2 separate regions of the Homo sapiens genome follow, and region 2 is linked to region 1. Evidence: fine-mapped expression QTL. Tissue or cell type: whole blood. Region 1 holds a variant in brackets; the other region holds the start of a gene. All regions are shown on one strand. Distances are between the middles of the regions.

Region 1 (2,759 bases):
AGGTCTGGCCTCATCTAAGGTGACACACAGAGGGTACACCGCACAATCTTCCTATCTTCTTTAAATATCACTGCTTTCAACAGGACTTTTTTTTTTTTTTTTTGAAACAGGATCTTGCCCTGCCCTGTCACCCAGGTTGGAGGGCAGTGGCATGATCATGGCTCACTGCAGCCTTGACCTCCCAGCTCAGCCTTCTGAGTAGCTGGGACAACAGGTGCATGCCACCGTGACTGGCTAATTTTAAAAAGTTGTTTCGTTTTTTTTTTTCTGTAGAGACAGGGTCTCCCTAGATTGTCCAGGCTGGTCTCAAACTCCTGGCCTCAAGCAGCTCTCCAGTCTTTGCCTCTCAAAGTGTTGGGATTACAGACGTAAGCCACCACGCCTGGCCCAAAAAACATAATAATGTGGTTATTCGAAGAAGTGATTTCCTCTCAAAACATAAATTCATTTCTTCTTTTACTCTTGTAACTTTCTGAGGTGAAAAGTAGGAAGTTCCCAGATTTTTCATTGCTGTAAAGAAAGATTATAGACAAGCAAGGAAGGAGTTAGAATAACCTGTGTGATAATGAATTAGAAGAGTTGGAGGTGTATGTAAGTATGCTCAGCATGAATTTATGTTTAGCTTAATGTAGATACAGATGGTTACATGTGGAAAGTATTTATAGCTATGCATAGATAGGTTGGTATATGTACATGTATTTTCTACCTCCTTTGGCTAAGAGGGCGCAGAAGCCATGACATCCCTGTTGCAACAAAAACACCTAGCACCATTTATCTTGGTTTGTAATACTATTCTCCAGTAAAAACAACCAGGGCTCCTTGCAGAAAGGGCTGATGATAATATATAAGATTAGCCTGGAGCATCTTATATATCAGAAAGCAAGGGAGTACTCAAAAACTAAAAACAATAAACTGCTCCCCAATAATGGGAGTATGTCAAAGGGTCACAGGAGCCATGTGAAAGAGTTTGCAATAGCCAACAAAATGAAGAAGTATTTGAATTTAAATCAGAGTATAAAATAAATATCTACGAGTCCATAATGATATAAACAAGTGATTGAATAAATAAATAAATGTGGGAGACTAGACAAATCCCCCATGCAGAAGAATTCCAAGTAATTTATGTAGGTAAATACTTCACTGTCAAAGAGGCAGAGCATAATTAATTCCCCACTCCTGTAAGTGTGGGCTGCTTAGTGACTTCCTTCCAGGAGTGCAGTATAAATAGGGAAAAGAAGACAACTTCACAGTGGAGGAATCTGGCAAACTCTGTCCCACCCAGATGATCAAGGTTTACATCAAAAGCACTAAGCCATGTTGATACTGCACTGTGTTTCCTTGATATAATGGGATGAAATGGCACTTTGTGTAGTCGTGCTTCCAAAAAACCTCATAGCCCTAGACTAATCATGGGAAGAACACCAGACAAATCCTAATTGAGGGACATGCTACTTAATTCCTGAAAAGTACTCCTCAATGCTGTCAAGGTCATCTGAAACAAGAAAAGTCTGGCAAACTGTCACAGTCAAGAGGAGACTAAGGAGATATGACGACTAAATATAATGTGGTATC[T/C]TGTATGGGATCTTGGAATAGAAAAAGGATATTAGTTAAAACTGAGGAAATCTGAGTAAAATATAGATGTTTGTTACTAATAATGTATCAATAGTAGTTCATTAATTGTGACAAATGTAACATACTATCGTAAGATGTTAATAATAGAGGAAACTGGATGTGAGGTATATGGGCACTCCCTGTACTGTTCACAATTGTTATGTAAATCTGAAACTATTCTAAAATGAAAGTGTATTTTATTTTATTTTATTTTGAGACGGAGTCTTGTTCTGTTGCCCAGGCTGTAGTGCAGTGGTGAAATCTCGGCTCACTGCAACCTCCACCTCCTGGTCTCAAGCGATTCTCCTGCCTCAGCCTCCTAAGTAGCTGGGATTACAGGCACGCGCCACCACACCCAGCTAATTTTTATATTTTTAGTAGAGATGGGGTTTCACCATGTTGGCCAAGCTGGTCTTGAACTCCTGACCTCAGGTGATCCACCTGCCTCGGCCTCCCAAAGTGCTGAGATTACAGGCGTGAGCCACCGCGCCCAGACAAAAGTTTATTTTTTAAAAGGTAGGAAAGTTTCACATTTTGATCGTACTATTGAGATAAAACTTGGTTGTTGTTGTTGTTTTTGAGATGGAGTCTTGTACTGTCACCTGGACTGGAGTGCAATGGCATGATCTTGGCTCACTGCTACCTCCACTTCCCGGGTTCAAGCGATTCTCCTGCCTCAGCCTCCTGAGTAGCTGGGACTACAGGCACCTGCCACTACGCCCAGCTAATTTTTTGTATTTTTAGTAGAGATGGGTTTCATTATGTTGGCCAGACTGGTCTCTAACTCCTGACCTCGTGATCCGCCTACCTTGGCCTCCCGAAGTGCTGGGATTACAGGCATGAGCCACCGTGCCTGGCCAAACTTGGTGTTTTCATCTGAGAATGAGGTTTCCAAGAATTGAAGATACAAGTTAGCTAAATAGTATCAGTGAAACCACAGAGTATAACTTCAGACCACTTGTGGTTTTAAGGCAGATCTATGCCACAGAGAAGTATTTGAATTTAAATCAAAGTATAAAATAAATATCTATGAGTCCATAATGATATAAACAAGTGATTGAATAAATACATAAATGTGGGAGACTAGACAAATCTCCCATGCAGAAGAATTCCAAATAGTTTATGTAGGTAAATATTTCAGAGTATCA
Region 2 (2,759 bases), 69 kb before region 1:
TCTTCATACATACATTTTTGTGCACTTATGTGCCTATTCCTTTGTTTACTATTTTACCCTCATTTCTAAGGCAGATTACACTTGAGCTATGTTCCCCATTCCACAACCAAGCACGGCTTGCTTTCCTTAGTTTATGCTATTTTCTCTACCTGGAATGCTCTTTTCCTGTCTTGACCCACTGAAGTCGTATGTATGAATCAGGGCTTCGGCCAAAGGCTGTTTGCTGTAGAGGCTCTTCTACAGTGTTTGGAGAGAATTTAAGGGACTATCTCATCTCTCTCTTTTGTACATGTATTATAACACATCATCTGAGCCTCCTAGTCTCTCCCAGGACTCTTTTTTCCTACCAGTTTATCAACTGATAAGAGGCAGAAACGAGATCAATCGCACTCATCTGTGTACTCTATCACAGTGGTGGGCACATCAAGTAACTAGCATATTTTGACTTTGATTGAAGTGAAGAATACGAATAACAGAAATTAAGAAGCATCCTCAATATTGCATAGCAGGTTACTCTTCTTTTCTTTTACATAGGATGGCACTCCATGCTTCAGGGAGACAGAGGAGTTGAATACAGGTTTTAGTTTTTGTTTAAAGTGAAAACGACTCTGATGTAGTTGAAAAGTAATGCTTTCTAGCTGTCTGTTAAAAATGTTTGTTGGTTGAAGACTTCGGAATTGCAGTCCAGTGAGGACTGAAAATAAGCATCTTTGGTGTGCCAAATATTCATAAGGAAATTGTATACGAATGCAAGAGAATGGAACTGAAGTAATAAAATAAGGGCTCTGATCCTTCAGATGACTTATTTAAGAAGCCAGGTGGCATAACGAATCTTACATATTATAATTAGTACTGAGAGGTGAATGCCAAAACATAAAACAAACACAATCGAGACAATGTTAGTGTGACTGTGACGCTGTGTCGGTGAGTTGAGGCTAACGATCCAGTGTGGCTCTCCTGAAGGCCCACCGCGCCCGCACCTAGGAGACGCGCCCCTTCTGCTCATGCTTTGAGGCGGGGTGACCCACACATCTGTGCCCCTCTCTGAGCAGGAGGAGGCCCCGTCGCAGACGCGCGCGCAGACAGCGTCTGCCGCGGGCACCTGGGGCCGCGCGCCGCGGGGCGCCCCGCCTCCGCTCTCCGAGGCCCAATCATCTGGAGGCTGTGGGGGCACGTCCCGCTCCCGGCCACGCCCCCAGCCGGCGGGGCGGGGGGTGCTTTTAAGAACCGGCGGCTGGCAGTGGGCTCAGTCGGGGGTGCGGGGCTGTGACCTAGAGGCTTCAGTGTCGATCCCCGAGGTGTTCGCGCGCGCCAGCTGTCCTCGCGGCCGCCTGCGCGCTGGCCGCCTGCGCGCTGCCAGCCCGCCCGCCCGCCAGGGGCTCCGCCGCCCTCGCCTCGGCCTCGTTAGCCCGCCAGGAGCCCCGCAGCTCCTCCGGGAGCCCGCTGGTAACTCGCGTCCCTCGCGCTTCTCCGGCGCCTGAGGGGCCCGCCTCGGGCCATGGTGCTCTCCCAGGAGGAGCCGGACTCCGCGCGGGGCACGAGCGAGGCGCAGCCGCTCGGCCCCGCGCCCACGGGGGCCGCTCCGCCGCCCGGCCCGGGACCCTCGGACAGCCCCGAGGCGGCTGTCGAGAAGGTGGAGGTGGAGCTGGCGGGGCCGGCGACCGCGGAGCCCCATGAGCCCCCCGAACCCCCCGAGGGCGGCTGGGGCTGGCTGGTGATGCTGGCGGCCATGTGGTGCAACGGGTCGGTGTTCGGCATCCAGAACGCTTGCGGGGTGCTCTTCGTGTCCATGCTGGAAACCTTCGGCTCCAAAGACGATGACAAGATGGTCTTTAAGACAGGTGAGGCGCGGCGCCCGCCGAGGCCAGCCTGGGCGACCCGCGTGGGGCCCCCGAGCGCATCCCGCGTGTGGGCTGTGTCTGCCTCCGAGTGTGCATGTCGGTGGGTCCCTGTGCCAGAGGGTGCGAGCAGGGGGGTCTTTCGAGTTGCAGACAGAGCCTGCCGCTTCTGGGGCCTCGGGGTGCCCGTCTTTATATGGAATCCAGCTGCAGAGCTGTGTGTTTGCAAGCAGGTCGCAGAACTTACTTGCCGAGATCGTCCTCCTTTCCCCTCAGCAGAGCAGACGCTAACAGTCCACAGGAGCCCTTCCTTTTATTGTTTGAAAACAAACAGAACCCCAGAACCTTCAACCCCAGTCATCGCCCTGTCATTTTTGTGGTCTCTTTCGTGACTATGCCAGTTATGTAGTTCTTCACCTGCCTCCCTGGGCCGCAGAGGGGTGTGCGTATGTTGGCGGGGCGGGGGGTGGAGTTTGGAGGAATGAAAGAGATTTGTACGAAGGTCACTGGAGTTCCAAAGGGGGCCCTGCAAGAGTCACGGTTCCGTGCGTTCCCGTCCCCCCGCCTTTTTTTGCCCTCTGGGTTAAATGTAGAAAACACGGGAGGCAGCCGGATTAGGGACTAGGATGAGGAAGGTGAAGGGTTGCTTCTTCCCTCTTCCTGTTGTGTTTTTTGACATTTTTTTTTAACCATATAGTAAATTAGATACAAAAGGTGCAGATTCAGCGTTTTCTCCCTGTAGAGCATTATTATGACTTTTTGGCTGGTTAGGCAAAAAACAAATCTAAGACCTTCTGCATGACACTTTAACATAAATTCTTTCACTTTATCCTGCAAGGTGAGCGCGGTCAACCCCATTTGGGTGAGAAAACTGTAGCTCAGTGAAAGTGTCTTGGTGGGTAGTAGAATGGCAATAAAACA

Evidence for each region. PIP is the estimated chance that this variant, and not a neighbour inherited with it, causes the effect.
Region 2: it holds the start of SLC16A10, and the variant in region 1 is fine-mapped to the expression of SLC16A10 in whole blood (INTERVAL, PIP above 0.99).

The regions. Positions count from the first base shown.
Region 1 is chr6:111,155,112-111,157,870 of GRCh38, forward strand. All of the region lies in intron 1 of SLC16A10 (solute carrier family 16 member 10), which reads left to right. Among named protein-coding and RNA genes, the nearest start is that of SNORD166, 43 kb to the left of the region's middle. The variant T/C (reference allele first, on the strand shown) is at 1,573.
Region 2 is chr6:111,086,255-111,089,013 of GRCh38, forward strand. SLC16A10 (solute carrier family 16 member 10) reads left to right here and starts at 1,249. Exons shown (of 6, transcript NM_018593.5): 1 at 1,249-1,841. The coding sequence starts at 1,499. RefSeq lists silencers at 930-1,609, 1,640-1,819 and an enhancer at 1,632-2,132.